Homo sapiens: one gene and its partner. The protein of the gene in region 1 interacts with the protein of each later gene in a pairwise test. Each region holds a gene or a part of one and is shown in the gene's direction. Other genes may lie near its edges.

The links.
Region 2: the proteins of CNIH1 (region 1) and LRRC59 interact in binary tests that used the Homo sapiens proteins (3 or more experiments, as listed by UniProt).

The regions. Positions count from the first base shown.
Region 1 is NC_000014.9:54,426,871-54,443,686, reverse strand, and holds the start of CNIH1 (protein cornichon homolog 1), read left to right. Parts: upstream 1-2,312; 5' UTR 2,313-2,359; coding exon 2,360-2,440; intron 2,441-7,249; coding exon 7,250-7,318; intron 7,319-11,466; coding exon 11,467-11,579; intron 11,580-13,282; coding exon 13,283-13,426; intron 13,427-15,845; coding exon 15,846-15,873; 3' UTR 15,874-16,816. UniProt on the Homo sapiens protein: Involved in the selective transport and maturation of TGF-alpha family proteins.
Region 2 is NC_000017.11:50,386,663-50,394,523, reverse strand, and holds part of LRRC59 (leucine-rich repeat-containing protein 59), read left to right. Parts: intron 1-1,626; coding exon 1,627-1,785; intron 1,786-2,021; coding exon 2,022-2,126; intron 2,127-6,391; coding exon 6,392-6,464; intron 6,465-7,861.

The DNA.
Region 1 (16,816 bases):
TCACCAGAGAAGCTAGATACAGAGTGCACATTGGTGCATTCCCAAACCCTGAGCTAGACACAGGGTGCTGATTGGTGTGTTTACAAACCTTGAGCTAGATACAGAGTGCTGATTGGTATATTTACAATCCCTGAGCTAGGCATAAAGGTTCTCCACTTCCCCCCGAGACTCAGGAGCCCAGCTGGCTTCACCCAGCATATCCCACACCGGGGCTGCAGGTGGAGCTGCCTGCCAGTCCCGCGCCGTGCACCCGCACTCCTCAGCCCTTGGGTGGTCGATGGGACTGGGCGCCATGGAGCAGGGGGTGGCGCTCGCTGGGGAGGCTTGGGCTGCACAGGAGCCCATGGAGGGGGTGGGAGGCTCAGGCATGGCGGGCTGCAGGTCCCGAGCCCTGCCCCGCGGGAAGGCAGCTAAGGCCCGGTGAGAAATCGAGTGCAGCGCCGGTGGGCTGGCACTGCTGGGGGACCCAGTACACCCTCTGCAGCCACTGGCCCGGGTGCTAAGCCCCTCATCACCCGGGGCCGGCAGGGGCGGCCGGCTGCTCCGAGTGAGGGTCCCGCCAATCCCACGCCAACCCGGAACTCCAGCTGGCCCGCAAGCACCCTGCGCAGTCCCGGTTACCCCTCGCGCCTCTTCCTCTACACCTCCCTGCAAGCTGAGGGAGCTGGCTCTGGCCTTGGCCAGCCCAGAAAGGGGCTCCCATAGTGCAGCGGTGGGCTGAAGGGCTCCTCAAGTGCCGCCAAAGTGGCAGCCCAGGCAGAGGAGGCGCCGAGAGTGAGGGAGGGCTGTGAGGACTGCCAGCACGCTGTCACCTCTCAAGATCTCATTACCTTGTCCAGGCTGGTCTTGAATTCCTGAGCTCAAGTGATCCTCCTGTCTTGGCCTCCCAAAGTGTTAGGATTACAGGCATGAGCTGCTGTGCCTGGCCAAAAGTAACTTGATAATTTGCACACAGGTGCCACATAATCCTGGTGGTACAGGTTGTACTGTCCAATACACTAGCCACATTTTACTTAAAGTGATGTGAAATTTAAAGTTCAGTTCCTCAGTCATGCTAGACAATTTACAAGTGCCCAATGGCCACATGTGGCTAGTGGCTACTGTATTGGGCAATGTTTAGGTATCGAAAATTTTCACCATCACAGAAGGTTCTATTGCACAGCACTGGACAGACCCTGCTTCTAAACTATTCTACGCAATTTGCTAGGTGAACGATCTTTAATGCAAATCTAAACATGGTCTTCTTTTGCTCAAAAGCCTTCAATGATTTTCTCTTCCATCAGCAGCAATCAGTTAATAGAGTTTTTTTCTTTTAAAAATGGTTGTAATGGAAAGTTAAATCAATTTTGAATCAATTTTGTGTGTTAAGACCAGCATTAAAAACAAGTAGCAAAAGAGAGAAGGGAAAGTACTTATGGATCATTAGTACAGTTTTGTGAAATTTTTGTTTTGGTCATATCTATATTTCTTTGCCTCTATAACTAGATTTCCACCTCTTCATAACTTGATGTCTGTATGATATTCCACTGGGTTGCAATGAAAAAAATCTTTCTAGTTGTGTGTGGTGAGCAAAAAATTTGGGCTTATGGGATAAGAAGTCTGAGCTCCGTAATGAAGCATTATAAGGCCCTCTATGATCTGATCCCTTGCTAATTCATTTCTAAGTCTCACCACTGTCTTGCACTTAGGTTCCATTAATACAGAATTGCTGCTGGTTTCACCTGAGACACGAAGCTTTATTTTTCTTTTCTTTTTTCCATCTCTGTTGCGTTTCCTCATTCTGAACTGTTTCCTTGGACTGCCAGTTCTACCTTCTTTTTGCCTGGAGAACTTATCATCATCTAAGGCCAACTTAGGAAACACCTACAGCAGGAATCCTGCCTAAATGCTCCAGGGCGGGCTGGCTGTCCTTCTTTGACCTTTCAGAGCATCCCACACACATCCGTTTACGGGGTTATAATAACGTAATTATTTATTTAGGTGTTCATTTCCGGCACTATACTAAGTTCTTTCAGTGCAGGTACTATCTTATTCATCTTTGTATCTGAAGCGAGAAGCGCGGTACCTGTAACAAACTAGGCATTCATTCAATAAATATTTGTTGAAAGAATAAACGCAAGAAGGAAGGAAAAATCAATCAACAACTGTGCGGACAATGTCAGTGCAACGCAGACTCCGGCCATCAGAGGGCGCCGGGGCGGCTGGGCTGGTGCGCAGGCGCGCTGAGAGGGCTGGCGCCGCGGCGGTAGCGGTGGCGGTCGCGGCTGTGGCCGGGGGAAGTGAATGGTTTTACCCAGAGGGCCCTGCGCCGCCTTTCTCCGCTGGCAACGGCGCCGCTCCCCGCTCCTCCTCCCCAGCCATGGCGTTCACGTTCGCGGCCTTCTGCTACATGCTGGCGCTGCTGCTCACTGCCGCGCTCATCTTCTTCGCCATTTGGCACGTGAGTAGCTGGGGCTGGGGAAAGGAGGGCGAGGCGGCAACACAGCCTCTTTTCGCCCCGGGCCCGCGGTCCGGGCCGCCACGGCCGCCGGGGCTTTGCGCGTCGGGGATGCGGCCCGGCTGGCACGGGCCGCGCGGCGAGGGGTCTGGGGGCCGCGGGTACTGGAGGAGCCGGGGCGCGCAGTCGCCAGGTGGACGCGCCCGCGTTGCCTCGGCACAGGCCGCGCGCACCGCTACTCCTCCCCTACTGGATGGGGCGGCCGCGGTCCAGGCGGGCGCCCGCGGTTCCGCGCTGCGTTCGCACCGACCTCTGCCGGCCCGCGGCCCTGCATTCCCGGGGAGGATGTCGACAGCGCGGTGGGACGGCCGTAGTGTGAATGAAGTTTTCCGAATTTTTGTTAATACAGATTGACTTTCTTTTAGGGTTTCCACAGAACTGTGGCCAAAATGTAACCTACTTAGGGTGAATTTCCAACTCTACTTTTCAGCACTTGTTCGGTGCTCTTCAAATCAAATCACTTTTTTTCTCTTTTTCCAGATTGTTGTTTCCTGGTGAACTTTGATGCAAGTTCAATTGATTACTTTGTTGATTGCATGTGCGCGTTTCCCCCCCAAATCATACTTTGACCGCTGGAGTTTCAACAGGCAGCTTTCCAAGCCACCCTTATATTCAGGATTGCTTGATTTAGTAGAGGGAGTTTTCATTTGATTTTGAGATGCTCAGAAACCTTAAGCTTTTCTGGGGCAGTATTTATTTCTGTTACACACATCATCATCACTATTGCAGGGTGGAAGCACAGCCTTACTGGTCCCTCTAAGGAAAAAGTCGTAAGTTCCCTGTGACATAGTTCTACAGAGATAAGAATTTCTGTTGCTTTAGCACAAAATTAAAAGCCTTGAGAGCCTTCTGGAAATCATTCATTAAAAATTTATCTCATACTTGCTTCTCTTTTCCCCATATTCCAGTGCCTTCTGGAATGTTGCTTTTAATTTGAATGACCGCGTTCACTCTTACGTAGATTTTAAGTCAGGTTTCATCATGCCAGTAACAAGGATTTCTATGAAACATACGGAGGGGCAGAATGATTAAACAGCAGCAGCGTCTTGTGCAAAAAAGTCTCGAAAGTGGAAGCATATCACAAATCCATTCCTTTTTGCTAAGCAGTGTGATTATGTTTACAATTATTTTAGGACCTGACTGCTTATTGTAATCAGGAATACTTATGTAGGCTATTAACTGTGTCGGAAATAACTGCTACCTCAGAATGCTTGTCAGTAGGAGCAGTAATTTGAAGAGCATCTTCAGCCCTGCTTTGATGGAAGAACAATACCTAAGATAATTTGGGATACAGACTAGCTCAACCTTAGTAGGCCTCTGATGAAAATGTGTGGTTCCATGGCCGGGCGCGGTGGCTCACTCCTGTAATCCCAGCACTTTGGGAGGCCGAGGCGGGAGGATCACGAGGTCAGGAGTTCGAGACCAGCCTGGCCAACATGGTGAAACCCCGTCTCTACTAAAAATACAAAAAAATTAGCCGGGCATGGTGGTGGGCGCCTGTAATCCCAGCTACTCGGGAGGCTGAGGCGGAGGAGAATCACTTGAACCCAGGAGGCAGAGGTTGCAGTGAGCCGCGATGGCGCCACTGCACTCCATCCTGGGCGGAGACTCCGTCTCAAAAAAAAAACAAAAAAAAAGAAAGAAAGAAAGTGTGTGGTTCCATTCCATCTGTAGATGTAGCTTTAAGTCATTCTGCTTGATGGGTATTCCTTTTTTCTGGGATGATGGGGATTCTTAGAGTGGTGGGGTAGGCTTTTTCACATTTTTACGTTTTGAACCAGGTTGTGTTTGGCTTAAGGAAAACCTGAACCGCACTTTCAAAAAATGGGTAATTTCAGCTTAAACAAATGCGTGTCTGGGTGAAGTAAATAATTTTAAGTCGTGTTATACAATGAAAAAAAAATTATACCGCAGATTCGTGGAGAGCTTTTATGCTTAGGGATTTCTTCATTCAGAGAATTAGTATCCTTTTGGAAACAATTCTAAATAAATAGATAGTTTTAATTTTTCTATTACCCATATAACCTTATGTTTATCATCTTAGGTAGTATCTTAGTCCATTCCTTTATAGTGTTTATAGTGTTGCTATACAGGAATACGGGAGGCTGAGTAATTTACAAAGAAAAAAGAGGTTTATTTACCTCAGGATTCTGCTGACTATAAGACTGGGCATCTGGTGAAAGTCTCAGCCTGCTTCCACTCATGGTGGGGGAGTAGTGTGTGGAGATCCCATAGTGAGAGAAAGCAAAGGAAAAAGAGGGGGAGGTGCCAGGCGCTGTTTACAAGCCAGTTCTCTTGGGTCCTAATGGCAGGAGAACTCACTTATTCCCTCCAAGATGACACCAAACCATTCATGAGGGATCTGCTCCCATGACCCAAACACCTCCCGTTAGATCCCGCCTCCAACATTGGGGATCAGATTTCAACCTGAGATTTGGAGGAGTTAAACCAAACTCTAGCAGGTAGTTGAAGTATCTTTCAGAAGACTCATTTTACAATTTTTAAATTACATTCCAAAAATCTTATTTACATTAATCACTGTATTAGAGAATGTTTTTTATGCTGATGATTATATCTGTCAATTTAGTCCTAATTCATGTCATTGATGCTCTGTGGAGAATAGAGTCGGGAGCATAGATTGTTTGAAAAATTAAAAGCTTAAAAGTCATTCCTTAAAGATGTGTATTAAATTGGAAGGTATTCTGAATTGTGTACTTGGGCATCTTTAGGGATTTATCTGTTTTATTTTTGTTATACTTCTGTAGGAAATTTTGTGGGTGTCTTTGCTCAGCCACATAGCTGCAAAAAGATTTGAAAATCATTAAGAATATTCTCAGAAGAGGTTCGAAAACCCTAGCCTATAGCACTCAAAGAGAAACCCATTCAACAACATAGTTAAAAAATCCCTGTGACCAGGCACAGTGGCTCATTCCTGTAATCCCAGCACTTTGGGAGGCCAAGGCAGGTGGATCACCTGAGCTCAGGAGTTTGAGACCAGCCTGGGCAACATGGTAAAATCCCATCTCTACAAAAACTACAAAAATTAGCCAGGCATGGTGGCATGCACCTGTAGTCCCAGCTACTCCGGAGGCTGAGGCAGGAGAATCATTTGAGCCGAGGAGGTGGAGGTTGCAGTGAGCCGAGATTGTGCCACTGCACTCCAGCCTGGGTGACAGAGTAAGACCCTGTCTCAAGAAAAAAAAAAAAAAAACCCTTGAAGTCACCTGGAGAAAATGTCCAATTAAATGTCAGTTTTAAAGACAAGTTTTGTATTCTGTTAAGTTGGATCTTGTTATAGACAAGTACTTATGATTATCATCCTTGTCTTGAGCTTTATTACTAAAATGCATTGGGGTTATATACCACGGCTGACGTCAAGTAGCAGACTAATAACGTCCATAAGTAATCAGAAATTAGTATTTTCTAATTACACATGTATGTTTTTAACATTTGTGTTAGGTGTCATTAGCCAAGGGAAATCCCCCTGGTGAGTTCTGCATTTTTTTTTTTTAATCCCTAGTGCTATTTTTTTCACCCCCTCCTTCCAGTTAATATTTATTGAACACTTAACTATGTGCCAGGCACTATTTTATATTTTAGGCCCTGGGACATAATAGTAAATACAACAATCTTTGTTCTTTCAGAGATTACATTCTAATGTTTTATTATTTTCCTTCTATTGTTGTTTGGTTGGAGTTTTTATTAGGGCAGGTGGGTGAATTTTATGGAACTCTAGAAATTAAAAAAACCGTCTTTTTATGAATCTAAATTTTAACAGGGAAATAAACAGTCATGTTAAAAGATGGAAATATGTAACTTTACTGATTACTGATAATATTGAGCAACACTTTCACATATAAAGATACTATTCCTAACTCATTAAGGGAAGGGTAGCTTAGTTTGTGTGTCCCTGGGGTGAGTAGTGTTAGCAACTAAAATGGCTCCCCCATCAACTTGCTGCCTTTGTTTTCTTTCTTTGTCACCTGAAATGATGCCACAAAGTGGTGCAGAGTCCCTATTTTGACTCTTAATGTACATTCTAGTGACCCTTGAGGTTGAAGCCACATTCCTCCAGAGTGTGGACAAAAGCATCCTTACAAATGTATGTGTTTGGGCACCAATGGGAACACATTGAAGAGTTCGAATCCATCTCTAGTGTCCCACTGAGCACTGTGCCAAGGGAGGAGGAGCATGCACAGATAAATAAAAATGGTCCTTCTCCCTGAGAGTGTAGAGGGGCAGACAGACCTGTGTGTAAATACCACACTCCAGGGTGAGAAAAGCCATATCGATGGCATTATAGAGTCCCATGCTGTGTGGAGATGTGGGCAATTACTTCTGCCCAAAGGAGTTAGGAAAGCCTGCAGAAAGAAGTTGACCTAGGAAGGTTTGTTTTTTTTTTAGGATAAAGAGGAATTTGGATAAACAGTTGAAATTATTTTTCTACTCAGAAGATTATTTCGAGTAGAGATAAGTTGAAATAACTTGAGCAGAGGCATTGACGAAATTGAAAATTGAAGGTATTTATTACAGTAATACCAAATTTTAGTGATACTGAGATAAGAGTGTTTTCACTTTAAATCGCATTCTGGTTCTTTTTGTCATATATGAGTTTACTGTAAATTGGTATTTGGGATCTTGGTGTACTTTTGTTCTTGTTTTATTAACTTTAATAATTATTTGAAGATGGGGCAGGTTTGTTGCTGCTTTTAATTAAAGTGAGTGGTCCTAACTGTTTTAATTTTATTTTAGATTATAGCATTTGATGAGCTGAAGACTGATTACAAGAATCCTATAGACCAGTGTAATACCCTGAATCCCGTAAGTTATAATATAGGATTTATCTTTAGATTTTAAAAATATGTTTGTTTTTAACTTGAAGTAATTTGAAAATGGCCAGTATTCTGAGTAGCATAATATATTTGTACTTTTTGAAGTAGGCAGAATTTAAAAAATCTTCTTTTTCCTGTCGTGCTTGACTATTCTATTATTAATCTGCTGGTGATCTTGTCAGCTGTCATACTAACATTCTTCCAATCTGCTTTTTACATTGTCGGCCAAAGACAGTTGAAAAGGTCAAAAAGATTAAAAGAGTCAAAATTGCATTAAAGGTGTGTACTGCTTTTTAGTTAAATGTTTTAATGCTATATTCATTTCATGGGGAGGGTTAGGGCATTTGTATTTGTAACGTTTTGTTCAGTGTGCTCGTTCATATGCCTGTTGAGGTTTATGATTTCATGAAATTTCATATTTTATGCAAATATATGCTTGCTGGCCCAGTCAAGTAGGGAAAGCTGTTAAATGCGTATGCGTTTTTTTATGTTATAGCCATAGGCACTTCTATGTGAAATTATTTGGTGTAGTACTTGAAAGTTGGTTAACATAAAATGACTAATAGATGGTGAGATGATTCTCGGGTTGTGACTTATTGTGAGGTAGTATGTGAGTGAAATCTTTAGTATGGACTTATCTGCCATATCTAGTTTTATCTTTGGTTTGCATATTCTGGAATAAATGAGTCATTCTTTCAGCTGATGTTTATTCAGAGCCTGTTAGGTGGATAGCTCTGTTCTGGGGGCTCTGGGATCTCGCAGCAATGCCATTCTTTGGACTTAGGGTGCCATAATTTTGTAGATAACAATTTGTATACAAATGTCTATGTGGTTATTTCTAGTGTGTATCTACTTTCTGTTTCTAAAACAGGCCTGAATTACACTGAGTTCTGAGCCATCATGAATTTAGTGATAATGTAGCTCCATTGTGCTTAGGGTTTTTGAAAAAATATATATGTATGTATTTTTAAATTTTCTTTTGAGATGGGGGTGTCTCTATATTGCCCAGGCTCTTATCAAACTCCTGGGTCAAGTGATCGTCCTGCCTCAATCTCCTGGGTAGCTGGGATTACAGGCACACACCAGGGTACCCAGTTTGTTTTTTTGTATTTTTGCCTGCATTTAGGAAGATACTCTTTTAGCCTGTGTATTTGATTTTGCCTGACTGGTCAGTAATTGAAAGGTTGGTTGTTTATAAGAAAGCAGTGGGTATGTCTTCAAGAAATAAAATACAGTAATTCAGCTTTAAAAATTACTTAACGAAGGGGAGAGTTTGTGTAGATTTTAATTGTCTAGCATACTAGTGTACTAGCACTAGGTGCTAGAGGGATTTTATTTGGAAAAGCATCTAGAAAGTTAGTTTGGTACTTTATTATTGTTTCCCAGATAAATGTGGATGGTGGAAGAGATTTCTAGTTTGTCTTTAGAGAACTGTTACAGTAAGAGTTGATGTAGGTACAATTAAAAGTATTAACTTATTAGCTGTTTCTTTGCTCTTATGAAACAAGACATAAGAAGATGAATTTGCCTTCTCTTGGAAAGCATTAAGTGTTAATTTTAAAACATCTTAACCTAAGTAGTTGAAGTTGTTACCAGGAAATGAAGAAACTGAAATTTCCCCTTTTGATAGCTGTTTATTAATAGTATTCTGTGCTGTTTGTCTTTTCATTACTTCAATAACCAAATGATGATGAAGGTAAAAATATTTGAAATCAGATGAGGATTTTCCTGGGTGCTAGGCTCTGTGGTAAGCACTTTGCCTGAATTTTTAAATTTAATTCTCATGACAATCCTGAGGTAGGTAAATTGTTATCTCATGAATAGGAGAGTAAACTGAAGCTTTGCCAGGTTAAAGCACTTTGCCGAATGTTATACAGCTAAGATAGAGTCAGAACTTGAACTCAAGACAGCCTAATTTTTGAAGCTCAAGTTCTTGTATTTTCCTAATGTATTGTAAATTTAGGAGGGACAGGTTTCATTTTAACAGGTAATGTGCGATTCCTGGCTTTTCTTAACGGAAAGAAATTCTCACTGAGAAGAGACATGTGCTTGGGACATCCTAATGCTGCAGGAGGTTGAAGGACGTTTTTATAGCAGCACAGGTTGCCTTTTGGATAGGGTGCCAATAATTGGCTGAATAGCAGTGCATCTGACAGTTTTCCCTATTTAAATTTGTTTTGACAGTTCTGCCAAAGTATGGGGGAAGACAAATATCACTATTTTTTAAATTGTGAACTTTAACAAGAGAATATTATATTTTGCATGTTTAAATGTTATCATTTCAGCCATATTTGCTTGAGGTTTTTTTTCTGGATACTAGTTTCTGTTTGAACCTTGGTTCCTAAATTGAATAATTTTTGTGTCTCTTATGGGGAAATTTTGTCATTAAAGAATGCTCGGAGAGGGTTGGTTTTTAAGAGAGATGGGTAGTAAATGTTTCTGGACTCCTTTTGAGGAGAAGGGAGGGAATGGCATTGTTTCATATTAGAACTGGTAGAGTTGTAGATTATCTTTATTAACACTTTTATTAAAGTAATATTAAGAGCGGGAGGGGTTCATGCTTTCAAAATCATTCTTTCCATACTTCATTCTGTAAGTGTAGGATAAAACCTTGCATGAGGATTTGTTTGTTAGGTATCAGATGGCTTTTTAGGGCTGAAATAGGCTTATATTTTAAAGACAACGTCTGTAATTTAAACAAGTATTATAAAAGCAACTCTAGTGGAATTCTTAATAAAATGTATATTTTTCTTGGTTTGTTCTGGTTATAGTCCTTGAGTTTCAGAGTCCTATGGCCCTTTTCTTGTTTAGAGAACTTTGATCTTAAATAGATGCTGGCTTAAATGTTATTTAGAAGTTTAGGTACATATGCCGAGTTTATCCTTTGTTATTGTATTGCTTAAGTTTGTAGAAAATATTTGGTTAGTGGTGTAGATGAGTTGTTTACCTGGATTTTTTTTAAAAATAGTATTCATTAGAAAGTCCCCTCTACAGCTTTAAATTGGAAAGAGTAATTTGGGAGTATGAGAAAATGGGTCTGAGTATGTAGTGTGATTACAATATCTACAGCCATGGTTTCCCCTCAGGAGTGATCTGATGATGATAAGTATTCATATGATTTCCATTTGGTATGAAGTAAACATTTGAGAAACTGGCTTTGTAGCTGTGACTTACAGGAGATACTTCGGCTGAAACTTGCAATGAGAGGTTTTGGTATTTTTATTTAACAAAGTCCTCAGGCTGAAATCTTTAGGATGAGAAAGATAATTTAACATAAAGCATTAACTCCTGGTCATTTTATAAAAAGCATTTTGCTCGAATTAATTTTTCTTCACTTAATATTACCTAGTACCAAAAGGTTTATTTTGTTTTTGGGTTCTGAGCTTCTACTGGTCTTCTGTTGTGTCTGTAGCATTTTGTTGGCAAGCAGGGGTAAAGAAACGGAAAGGCCACCTAAGAATGAGAACTTGGGAACCTGGAAAATCTTAATTTCATGGTTAAGAACTCAGTCTTTTCCCTCCTACATTGCAGAAAGCGAATCTTTTACATTTGCGCATATTAGTGTTCTTCCCCTCACTGTGCTGAGATTATTGGCTGATTGGCTTTCCATTAAAAAATTACTTCTGTGGGAATGCAATGTGGTTTGCTAAATATTGTGTATGTAGCATTTCTGGTTTTTGTTAAAGGCTTAAAAACACTGATATGTAAAATTCCAAAGGGGAGTTTTGTTTCTGTGGAATTTTTAATATGTTGCATGTGATCAGATATCTCATTTTTGTACTTCTATCATTGTTGAATGGTGAAAAGAAAAAGTATTCTAGTTGACTAGCATATTGTTTAACAATCTGGGTGGTAACTTTATATAATTTGATCTGTTTCTCTAAGGATTTGAGCTTTGAATTTTAAGTCATGTATCTTACTATGTTAGTGCAAGCTATATGCTCTGGTCAGTTTGCCTGTAATCCTACTTTTGGTAAAAAGTTAAACATGGAAATAAAACTCAGTAGCATCTTTTATTTCTGAGTCTAAGAAAACAGTGATTTTTCATTATGGAAACTTGGTTGCCACCTGCTTTCCAGATTAGTAGTTGACTTAATGCTGAGGCATTTTGATAACTGGCTTGTGTTTTCCTTCCAGCTTGTACTCCCAGAGTACCTCATCCACGCTTTCTTCTGTGTCATGTTTCTTTGTGCAGCAGAGTGGCTTACACTGGGTCTCAATATGCCCCTCTTGGCATATCATATTTGGAGGTAATATTTAGATACACTTTTAATATTTTTTTAAATTAAAACTTAAATATACTGTGGTTGATATGGTTATCTTACATGCTAGTCACCTACATAAAAATGGAAGATCAGTTGGCATTTATTTTTTTAAAAATCAAGTGGGTGAACAAAAACTATTTCAATACCTCATATAGAGCTTACTTTATTTTTAAAGGAATTTTTTTAAAAAGTGAAGTATAACTTAGTGTTGTGCACAAGTCTGAAGTATATAGCTCAATGAATTTTTACATACGTATACACCTGTTAAACTACCACCCAGATCAAGATACACAACAGTTGTAGCCTCCAGAGCATTCACTTATGCCCCATCTTAAGTCAGTTACCCTCCACACCTCCCAAGACCACTGACCTCTATCAACTTAGATTAGCTTTGCTTGTCCTTGAACTTCAGGTAAGTCAAAATGTACAGTATGTGTCTAATTTCTTTCTGTGTTTATGACTAATTTTGGTTATTTGTAAAAGATAATATTTTATAACTTCCATAGTAATATCTGCCGTATATAGAGTTAGAAGTTTTTGTTTTAAATAGGCATGTCAAAACCTTATTGCCCTTGATTTTAGGAGACATATACTGAAGAAGTATTTAGAAGTAAAGTGTTATCAGGTCTACAATGGACTTTGAAATGATTCAGAAAAAAATGTACTTGGCCGGGCGCAGTGGCTCACGCCTGTAATCCCAGCACTTTGGGAGGCCGAAGTGGGTGGATCACAAGGTCAGGAGTTCAAGACCAGCCTGGCCAAGATGGTGAAACCCTGTCTCAACTAAAAATACAAAAATTAACCAGTAGTGGTGGCGGGCGCCTATAAACTCAGCTACTTGGGAAGCTGAGGCAGAGAATTGCTTCAGGCTGGGAGGCAGAGTTTGCAGTTAGCCAAGATCGTGTCACTGCACTCCAGCCTGGGCAACAGAGCAAGACTCTGTCTCAAAAAAAAAAAAATTTACTCAGGGCCAGGTACAGTGGCTCATGTCTGTAATCCCAGCACTTTGAGAGGCTGAGGCAGGTGGATCACTTGAGCCCAGGAGTTGGAGAACAGACTGGGCAACGTGGCAAAACCCCCCTCTACAAAAAAAATTAGCTAAGCATGGTGGCGTGTGCCTGTAGTCCCCGCTACTTGGGAGGCTGAGGCAGAAGGATTGCTTGAGCCCAGGAATCTGAGATTGTGGTGAGCCAAGATTGCACCACTATATTGCAGCCTGGGTTACAGGGTAAGACCCTGTCTCAAAACAACAACAACAAAAAAACAAAACAAAAAACCAAAAAAAACCAGTACTCAGAATGAGAAAGAGAAGGAGAAAGCAAATATAGTAAAAATGGACATTTGGAATATCTGGGTGAAAGGTTCTTGTATCTTTTCTGTAAGTCTAAAATTATGCCAAGATAAGTAAAAACAAAACACCTATTTTCTTTTTACAGTTCTTCCTATTTTTCATGGATTTCTGAAAAGGCAGAGACTAGAAGAAACTTGTTTAGCTATCTCATTCTGCTCATTTAGGGGCTCTACTTTTAAAATTAAGATGGTAAAAGGAAAGCATTTTACCCATAAGTAAAAGAATGCTTCCCTTTATGGACCACCTCTCGTAACAGATGTTTTAGAAGAAAGACCTGCTTTCTTATCTGAACATTTACTGCCCTTTCTGAATGCCTAATAGACTGTGTTTATTCCAGGTATATGAGTAGACCAGTGATGAGTGGCCCAGGACTCTATGACCCTACAACCATCATGAATGCAGATATTCTAGCATATTGTCAGAAGGAAGGATGGTGCAAATTAGCTTTTTATCTTCTAGCATTTTTTTACTACCTATATGGGTAAGTTGAAAAGGTAAAATGAAATATGCTTTCACTTTGCTGCTTTAAAAGTTTGCAGGCATTATGGTTTTCACACCTCAAAATCCATTTGAAGAATAACTTAGTGTCTTAAGTGTGCATGGTGCACACCAGCAAATTCGCACACATTCAGTGTGGCCCACACTGGTGCTTGTCAAGGCAGTAAACCAGCCTGCCATCAGAGGCAGAAGGTTTGGTCAGGGATGCTGCTTCATAAGTTTTCAGACACATTCAGTCAGTAAAGGATGGTCCTCATTCTCCATGGCAAAGTGATGTCATTGAAGGATAGGGATGTGTGAGTTTGCAGAAATTTCTGCTTGTCTTCAGGGTCTCTCCAGACATTATGTTTCATTTTTTCCTTATCATTCTTCATAAGTGGTGTGCTCTGCCCTTTATTTTCTGATTTGCTTGATTTGAGTGGTATGAATGAAAGAAGTAGTTCTACCTTACAGGGTGGTGCAGTTTCCGATTTTTGTTCTTTTTTTTTGAGTCGGAGTCTCTGTTGCCCAGGCTAGAGTGCAGTGGCGCGATCTCTGCTCACTGCAACCTCCGCCCCACCAAGTTCAAGCAATTCTCCTGCCTCAGCCTCCTGAGTAGCTGGGATTACAGGCGTGCACCACCACGCCCGGCTAATTTTTGTATTTTTAGTAGAGACAGAGTTTCACCATGTTGGCCAGGTTGGTCTTGAACTCCCGACCTCAGGTGATCCGCCCACCTTGGCCTCCCAAAGTACTGGGATTACAGGCGTGAGCCATCGCGCCCAGCCTGATTTTTTTCCTTTTATACTCTCATGGACTCATTGTTCCTCTAGGTCAGGGTGTCTCAGCTTCGGCACTGTTGACGCTTCTGGGCTGTGTGGGAATTTCTGTGGGAAGCTGTCCTGTATATCATGGGACGTTCAGCAGCATCCCTGGCCTTTACCCACTAGTTGCCATGAGCACCCTCCTGCCCCCTCATGACAACCAAAAATGTCTCTGGACATTGCCAGATGTCCTGAGGGGCAAAATTGCCCTGGGTGAGAACCACTGCTGTAGGTGTGTTGTAGGTGCAGTGAAATGACTGCTTATTAAAACTAGAAAAGGACACTGTTAAATGTAGAATTATATATTTCTTTAAGCTATGTGAATATACTTTTACACATCACTTATATAAAATACTTTCTCATTTTTTATTAATACATACTCAACTAGAGAGGACTTTCTCCTTGATTTTCAGAATATTTCCAAAAAAGCTGTAAGCTTTAAAAAACAGCATAAGCTTCCCTTCTCTTTTTCATTACTTGAAAACTTGCTAAGATAGGCTTATATTCATATTCATATTTCTCTTCATACATAAGTTTCCATCATAGAAAAGATGAATGGTTAGACTGAAATTTAGGAAAAAGGTATTTTTGGTATTTTTATGCCTTTAGAGGCTATTACTGTGAAAATGAGTATCCTTTAGTGCATATGCAGATATTACTCATCTATGAAACAAAGAAGTGCTCTGAAAAGTGAAATTCTATGTGTCACTTTAATTTCCTGTTAATTTTCATTTCATAAGTTTCCATAGCAAATGTCTGGAACGGGCTGGTGTATGATAGGCACTTCATACGTATTTGTTGAATGAAAGAAATGAAATGAATGATTGAATAAATGATAAAGTTGGAGATGTGCAGTTGTGGGAAAATGTTCAGCAGGATATGGTAGCACCAGGACATTTGTTGTGTTTTAAGGTTGTCTATCAAGCTTGTTCAACTCCTTTGTATTTCTGTTTAGAGTTATGTGCTTTTTGAATCATGCCCCTATGCCGTTCCCATAGCACTCTGTAGAATTGCCCTTGGCAGTTCTTAAACCTAAATCAAAAGGTCATTGCCTTTTATTTTGCTGTTTTCCCCCCTTTTCTTTTTTAACCACTTCCTAAAAGTTGCTATTGCTTAGATCCTTTCTGTAATGGGAAAGATCCTTGATTGATCATTCCTTTCTATACAATGGGGATACACATGGTACCTGCCTTCTAGGACTCCTTGAAGGATTAAGCAAGGTAATGTATATAAGAGACCTAACAGGGCCTGGCGTGAAGTGAGCCCTCCAGAGATACTCATTCTATTATTAGACACAACTCCAGAGTGTGTGATGTTTGGATGGCTTCTCTAAGCTCTGATCCGCCATTAAGCTTTCAGCTGTGCCGTTCTACTTGCTAAAATTGGAAGGGAATAGGGGACAACTACAGCATATGCACTGAGCCAAGTCATATGTTAGGCAAAAGTCCATAAATGCAAATTAAAATCACTGTGAACTTGTCATTAGTCTTGTCATTTTCTGTGATACTAGTTTGCTATATAAAGCATACTCTCTCATGCTCTGAGTTTTTTTTTAATAATTAGTAATGTTCAAATTAACATCTTTTTTCTTCTTTTCAGCATGATCTATGTTTTGGTGAGCTCTTAGAACAACACACAGAAGAATTGGTCCAGTTAAGTGCATGCAAAAAGCCACCAAATGAAGGGATTCTATCCAGCAAGATCCTGTCCAAGAGTAGCCTGTGGAATCTGATCAGTTACTTTAAAAAATGACTCCTTATTTTTTAAATGTTTCCACATTTTTGCTTGTGGAAAGACTGTTTTCATATGTTATACTCAGATAAAGATTTTAAATGGTATTACGTATAAATTAATATAAAATGATTACCTCTGGTGTTGACAGGTTTGAACTTGCACTTCTTAAGGAACAGCCATAATCCTCTGAATGATGCATTAATTACTGACTGTCCTAGTACATTGGAAGCTTTTGTTTATAGGAACTTGTAGGGCTCATTTTGGTTTCATTGAAACAGTATCTAATTATAAATTAGCTGTAGATATCAGGTGCTTCTGATGAAGTGAAAATGTATATCTGACTAGTGGGAAACTTCATGGGTTTCCTCATCTGTCATGTCGATGATTATATATGGATACATTTACAAAAATAAAAAGCGGGAATTTTCCCTTCGCTTGAATATTATCCCTGTATATTGCATGAATGAGAGATTTCCCATATTTCCATCAGAGTAATAAATATACTTGCTTTAATTCTTAAGCATAAGTAAACATGATATAAAAATATATGCTGAATTACTTGTGAAGAATGCATTTAAAGCTATTTTAAATGTGTTTTTATTTGTAAGACATTACTTATTAAGAAATTGGTTATTATGCTTACTGTTCTAATCTGGTGGTAAAGGTATTCTTAAGAATTTGCAGGTACTACAGATTTTCAAAACTGAATGAGAGAAAATTGTATAACCATCCTGCTGTTCCTTTAGTGCAATACAATAAAACTCTGAAATTAAGACTCACTTTCAGTGCATTGTTTGAGATTAAAAATAGTATTTCTTAAACTTGCTTAATCCATG
Region 2 (7,861 bases), on another chromosome or scaffold:
CTTGTGCATCTTTTGATGGGGAGCAAGAAAGAAGGTGATTTTATGGGCTACCTTATCATTATTCTCCCAAAGGACTTGAATTAGTTGAGATTTGCTCAATGTGGTCAGCACATTCAATCCATGATCAAATCCTTTTTATTTTTCTTGCACAACGTCTGCTAGTTTTCCTTCCACTCCACCTGTGTAGACAGTGGATTCATTCAGCCCCTCAGCCTCTCTGACATAGTAGTGCTCCTGCACCGTCAGGCCTAAGTGTGCTATTGCCACTTCCACCCATCACTCTAGCCGTGCCACTCCTTGCTGTACTCCAGGGTGACTTCCTATTTGGCCCTGGCTGTGGCTCAGAGGTCGAATTCAGAAGTTGGCAATGTCCTCATTGGATTATTAGTCCACTCACCTCTCAGTATTCTCCTAGGCCTTGCTCATCGTCCACAGTACCTTGTCACAGCTCATCAAAAACTGTTTCTAACATTCAAAAAGCATCGAGATCTCACTTCTTCCAGAAAGTATTTTGTGTTGAATAAAAGAAGAATATGTTGGGAGCTGTGGTTCATGCCTATAATCCCAGTAACTCAGGAGGCTGAGGTGGGAGAATCACTTAGCCCAGGAGTTTGAGAGCAGCCTGGACAACATAGCAAGATCCCGCCTCTAAAAAATTAAAAATAAAAGCAGGTTAGCAATTCCTTGCAGCCGCACTCCTTCTGTACACTTTGCCAGATGGTCATTCAGCCAAGTGCACTTTTCGATCTGAGCTTGTTCTGTTGTCTGTACTGACAACTTCCATTTCACTCTGCATTTCAGATCCACTGGCATTTCCAAGTCCCTAGAGAGCATGAATAGTGCCTCATTAGCTGAGGTTGTACCATCGCTTTCAGATGGGTGCTTAGCAAAGGTTTAATGTCAGGGGGATGTTTTGACCTGTGTTGAGAAAGAGCCAGGACTTGGGTAGGATGGACCCCAGCCCGTTCAGTTAGTTATTCACAGAATGTCTGTTGAGCACCTGTGTTAAGTACTGTGCTAGGTGCTGCAAATAACAAGAATCAGACTGAGTACTCCAGGAGTGCCTGATCTTTTTAAGAAAATGAACGAGCACGCTGTTTTGACAGATCCTATGAATGGTGAGCATAGGGTGCTGTGGAAGGACAGAATGGGTAACCACACCTCTCCAGGAGCAGTGTGGAGGGTAGGCTGGAGCAAGAACTGAGGGTGAAGGAATAGTGTTTTGTGCCTACTTTGTGCTAAGCCCTTTTCCATACATATCTTGGTAATTATCACCAGGTGTGGTAGGTGTTCTCTGCATTTTCATTTGAGGAAGAACGGCTGCTAACAGTAGAGCCAGGATTTTTACATGGGGTACCTCTGACTTGAGGGCTTCCAGACTGTTACACCGAAGTGTGTGAGCCCAAGGCTTAGATGAGGAGTTTCCAATCTTGTGGCTTCCCTGGGCCACATTGGAAGAAGAAGAGTTGTCTTGGGCTACACATGAAATACACTGATGAGCTGAAAAAGGAAAAAAAATCTCGTAATGTTTTAAGAAAGGTTACAAATTTGTATTGGGCCACATTTAAAGCTGTCGTGGCTCGTGTGTTGGACAAGCCTAGCTTAGGTTCTCTCTTTGGATCCTAGTCGGATTTCTGTGGCCTCACACACCTGGTGAAGCTAGACCTGAGTAAGAACAAGCTGCAGCAGCTGCCAGCAGACTTTGGCCGTCTGGTCAACCTCCAGCACCTGGATCTCCTCAACAACAAGCTGGTCACCTTGCCTGTCAGCTTTGCTCAGCTCAAGGTAACAATTCATGAACCAGTGTTTCATGGCCAGGGTGGCAGAGAACTCAGGGACTCTGGAGCACGGCCCTGAGAAAGGCTGACAGAAATACCCCCTTGTTGGTCCTGCCTCAGATGGCGCTCCCTATATGTGGAACACAGAGGGGCATTCTTCCTGCTCATTTTGTTTCACCCTGAGGGACTATGTATGTGAACTCGGGCTTAATGAGCCTCTTTGCCCATCGCCCATCTCTTTAGAACCTGAAGTGGTTGGACCTGAAGGATAACCCCCTGGATCCTGTCCTGGCCAAGGTGGCAGGTGACTGCTTGGATGAGAAGCAGTGTAAGCAGTGTGCAAACAAGGTAAGCACCAAGCTCCCTCCCAGTGGCTCCTTATACACTCCCTGGGATTTCTCCTCCTCCTGTTTTTCCCTCCTAGGGCACCTGGAGCTTTGTGTGGAGTTAAGCATTCAGGTCCGAGTGAAATATGTCCACTATGAGCCTGTCAAACAGAGACCTTTGTTTCTGCATTTACTTTATCTTTTTGTTTTTTATTTGTTTTGAGACAGAGTTGCTCTGTTGCCCAGGTTGGAGTGCAAGTGGCACAATCTCGGCCCACTCCAACCTCCGCCTCCCAGGTTCAAGCGATTCTCCTGCCTCAGCCTCCCGAGTAGCTGAGATTACAGACGCCTGCTACCATGCTCAGCTAATTTTTGTATTTTTTAGTGGAGATGGTGTTTCGCCACGTTGGCCAGGCTGGTCTCCAACTCCCGACCTCAAATGATTCGCCCACCTTGGCCTTCCAAAGTGCTGGGATTATAGGCGTGAGCCACCATGCCTGGCCTGCACTTAGTTCGCAAGTCGCAGAACAAGACTGCCTTCTCTACTGCAGTACTTCCTCTCTTAAGGAGCCGGGACCTTGCGTGATGCAACATGACACTGTGTGGACAGTTGTTTTAATAGTACCGGGGGTTAGGGGCTGTGGCCTTTCTGAGGCACAGTCGTAGGAATGTTGATAATAAAAGCGATGATAAAGGTGTTACAGCTGTAAGCAGGCACGTCCTGGGCAGACCTGGTATTTGATTACAGTTGAGTCATCTGACATAGGAGTGAGGAACTGAAAGCAGCATGCAAGACAACTATTGTCTGTGGTCAGTAGCCTGGAAGGTGCCGTACCCTACCTATTAAGAACAGCATTACACCTATCTCTTAATAACTCCAACTATAGTCACTTTTTCCCTCCAGCTTTGGAACAGATTGCTGCTGCTTCAGCTGAGCACCAGATGACTAACTTGGCTATGTTTAAGGTGCATGTTGAACAAAAAAGACTTAACTTTAAATACTAGAATTCATGGGTGAATGATGAGTCTCTGCTGTCTCAAGTAGAGAGTAAGAGAGTAAGATACTTCTTATCATTAGCTCAGGGCTTCTTATATAATCTTGTCATCTGTATCATCTCTTATTACAACAAATCAAGCACAAAGTTAACCAAGTAGCTAAGACAAGAGTTTTCCCTTAGATGAGAACAGTATAAGTGATCAGTGAAATCCTCTTTTGAAAACTAGGTGCTGTAGGAGTGATGTCTGTTCTGCAAGCTGACAGTAGCTACCATTGATTACTCTTTCCTTGTCCTGGATGCTTTCCATGCACCATCTCACAATCCTCAGAGCCCTGAGGAGTCGGCATTACTTTCATTTCTCTGACACAAGAAACCCTCAGCATATACACACCTTTCATTCATCCATCCATCCATTCATTCAGTAGGTAATATGTGGAACCATAGGAAATTGATGATATTCCAGTTTTTGACATACAAAAATAATTTTGATTGAGTACAAAGGCCTTTTGTATTTGCATATGTCTTTCAGACAAAGCTCCAGGCAGCATAGTGGATGTGGTAACTAAAGCCATGGTCCCTAGCACAGCTGTCCTAGAGCTGCAGCACACCTTTAGGCTTTGTAGGGAAATGGCCTGGGCCAGTCAGAATCAGGTCGTCTGTCTGCAGGAATTAGTTTAGGTCTTACTAGCTCTGACCAGGTAAGACCTAAACCCTGGTGGGTATATGGGTTAGTCTTAATCTGCTTGGTACATATTAAAGCAATTTTTAAAAATGATTTGTTCAATGTATTCATCAAGTGCTTACTGTATGCTATGAACTAGAGTAGCTAGACAAAAATTTACCCTCCAGGAGCTCACAGACTCCAGACTATGACAATCTGTCCCATTTCTGCATTGCCTGTGTTTTCAGATAATTAATTTTTTTTTTTTTGACATGGGGTCTTGCTCTGTCACCCAAGCTGGAGGGCAGTGGCGCACTCTCAGTTCACTGCAACCTGCGCCTCCCGGGTTCAAGCAGTTCTCCCACCTCAGCTTCCCAAGTAGCTGGGATTACAGGGGCATGCCACCATGACTGGCTAATTTTTGCATTTTTAGTAGAGATGGGGTTTCACCATGTTGGCCAGGCTTGTCTTGAACTCCTGACCTCAGGTGATCCACTCCCCTCACTCCTTTTCCTCAGCCAACACCCTGGACTCTTACTTTCCACACTCTCCCTGCAATCATGGCAACGGGACCCATAACTTCTCTACTGCCTGAGTGCCCTGAGCCCTAACTCTGGGTCCAGACCTGATTTCTTTCCTTTTTCTTTTTTTTTTTTTTTTTTTGAGACAGAGTCACGCTCTATCGTCCAGGCTGGAGTGCAGTGGCGCAATCTCAGCTCACTGCAACCTCCACCTCCCGGGTTCAAGAGATTCTCCTGCCTCAGCCTCCTGAGTAGCTGGGATTACAGGCGCACACCACCACACCCAGCTAATTTTTGTATTTTTTAGTAGAGATGGGAGTTTCACCATATCGGTCAGGCTGGTCTTGAACTCCTGAGCTCCAGTGATCTGCCCACCTTGGCCTCCCAAAGTGTGGGATTACAGGTGTGAGCCACCGCGCCTGGCCCAAACCAGGCTTTTGAAAGGAGATCCTTTTGCTGGTCTGCTCCTGAATACTTCTTATGATGGGTGTGTGCTTGTCTGGAGGTATGCGTGTCTGGAGTTTTCTAGAAATAAGAATTACATATGAATATACATGTCTGTCTCGTGCGCATGCATATTCAAATGTAATTGTTAAGTGCAGTAGTAAAACAAGACCCTTTTGCTAATAGTTTGGGTTTTCTTCTTTTTTCTTACTCACATGGTAAAGAAAATAAGCAGCAGTACTTACTGAGCACATATAATGCCAGAGATTATACAAGGCAGCCAATACAAGTTATATTATTTATTCTTCACAACACTCCATAGAAGTATATCTTATCTCTGTTTTCTCGATCAGAAAATCGGCTCAGAAAGGTTAAGTCACTTGCCAAGGTTATACAATAAGGGGTAGTCAGGATTGCGTTGGGCTCCAAGCTTACACTCTATCCCCTACAGCCAAAGAATACCACCTTTAAAAAAATACAAACAGAAAAGGTCTTTACCTCCTCCACCCACCATAGCGAGAATCTTTGTGATTGTGTGGTTAGAGGTCATCCATGAGCGAGTTTATGTGGATCTGGGGAGCTCAGATTGCCGAGTACAAGTGTGCTGTGTGTAGGCTTCTCTCGGAGCTCTCCTCTGCATGTGGTGAAAGTGTGTGCGACAAGCTCTGCCCTAGGAATGCAGGGGACTGTGCTCAGGTCTTAGCTGTGCTGCTTTCTGGCCATTAGCAGTGGACAAATCACCCTATGAGTCTTGGTTTTCTTCCTTTTGAAATGGGAATTAGCCATTCCTCATGTATGTATTGAATGCCTGCAATTAGCTAAACTCTGTGCTAGCCACGCCCCTGTGTGATACCTACAGACCAGACAGCGGTTCCTGCCATTAAGGAATCTGCCATCTTATGACCAAGCCAGATAGGTAGCAAGTAGCTACAATGTCCTGTGTTGAATTCCACAGGAGTAGATGGAGGGGGACTTAAGGTAGCCACAGGAGGGGCAGTCAGGAAAGCGTGTTGGAGGAAATGCTGTTCCCAAGTTGTTGCTGAGGGTCATATGGAATCATGCATGTGACAGTGAGTGTAAATGGCAGAACTTTTTACAGATTCGAGTTGGCATTGTGTTTCACTTTTTTCTGACAGTTTTAATGACCTTGGCTCATAGCACTCTTCTCCAACTAAGGTTGGCACAGTAATTTTAGGATACAAAGATACAATTAACTCTATTAGTTTGGTGGTGGTGGTGGTGGTGGTTGTTGTTTTGAGATAGGGTCTCAGTCTTCACCCAGACTGGAGTGCCATGGCGTGACCACAGCTCACTGCAGCCTTGACCTTCTGGGTTCAAGTAATCCTCTCTCCTTGGCCTCCTAAGTAGCTGAGACTACAGGCATCTGCCGCTGTGCCTGGCCAATTTTTTACATTTTTCTGTAGAGACAGGGTCTCATTATGTTGCCGAGGCTTGTCTTGAACTCCTGGGCTCAAGCAGTCCTTCTATCTCGGCTTCCCAGAGTGTTGGGGTTACAGGCGTGAGCCACCACATTCAGCCTAACTCTTATTAGTTCTACATTGCTACCATGATAATCTGGAAGCCTGAAAATAGTCTGTTTTTTGAGACTTCCCTGAGCAAACATGACTATGAAGAGCACTACTTTCCTCCTTTTCCTTTGCAGGTGTTACAGCACATGAAGGCCGTGCAGGCAGATCAGGAGCGGGAGAGGCAGCGGCGGCTGGAAGTAGAACGTGGTAGGTGGCTGTCCCTCTTGTAGTTATCTTTCAGGTCCTCATCCCAGCCAGTGGATTCTCATGCTTCAGGAGCTGGGATCCAGTAGAGTAGTCATGAAGAACAGTTAGTGGGCGGTGGGGGGACAGTATTGTGGTGGATGGTATCGTCTTTATCTGATGAATCTCTCTTCAGTCCTGGCTTCTCTGCTGTGCTCTAGAGGCAGTCAACTGCTTATATTTCATCTCTGCTTGGAGGGTTAATAGGCATTCATATGAAATGTGGCTAAAACAGATTCCTGATGGCCCTTCAGTCCCTCCCAGTGTTCCCTGTAATAGGAAATCACTTTCCCTATAGTTATTCAAGCCTAAAATAGGAAAGATGTTAATGACTCCTTTTTTTCTGTAATTCCCACATCCAATCTGTCAGCAAGTCCTATGTGGGACTGTTTCTCCAGCTCCGGTGCCATCTCTAACCAGCCACCATTCTGGGACCATCACAATGCCTTCCAGCATGTCTCCATGATGCTGCCATCTCCTTAAACTCATTCTCTTCACAACAGTCTGGGAGATCTTTTTACAACATAAATAATTATGCTGCTACTTGCTTAAAACCCTCTAATGGCATCCCACTGAACTTAGAATGAAATCCAAACTCATTGACAAGGCCAGCAAAACCCACCTTGGCCCAAGCTTACTTGCCTGCTCTCCACCGGCCTTGTTGCACACACAAGTGAAACTGGGCCATTAACTTCAGCTTGAGTACACCAACTGCAGTCTCACTCAGGGGCTTTGCTGGGTTTCCTTTTCCCTTAGTCTCTTTAAGTGCTGGCTTCATAATCCCACATCTCTGCTCAAATGTTGCCTTAGGTTAACTGTAACCCTTTTAGAACCACTGGATTAGAGTAGCCATTCTACCTGTCACTCTGTCATACCCTCTGCTAGTTTTTTTTTTAATTATTTTTTGAGACAGAGTCTCGCTCTGTTGCCCAGGCTGGAGTGCGGTGGCACGATCTCGGCTCACTGCAACCTCCGCCTCCTGGCTTCAAGCCATTCTCCTGCCTCAGCCTCCTGAGTAGCTGGGACTACAGGTGCCCCTCTGCTAGTTTCTTTAGGGCACAGATCACTGTCATTGTTACGTTCACCTGTTTATTGTCTTCTCTAGAAAGTAAATGATATAGGCACTGGAATGTGGCCTGTTTTCTCCATTGCTGCATCTCAAGCCCTTAAAATAACCCCTGGCACATAGTAGGTGCTCTGTTGACTGGCTGGCTGATTTCTGAGCCCCTCACTGGAGGACTCTTGTGGTTCAAGAAGGGATGTGTACAGTACTGATTACAGGCAGTCCCTGAGAGCACCGTGCCAAGTTACAGCCATCCCTTATTACGCATGGCCACTGTGGCAAGACATACCCGTGTTTA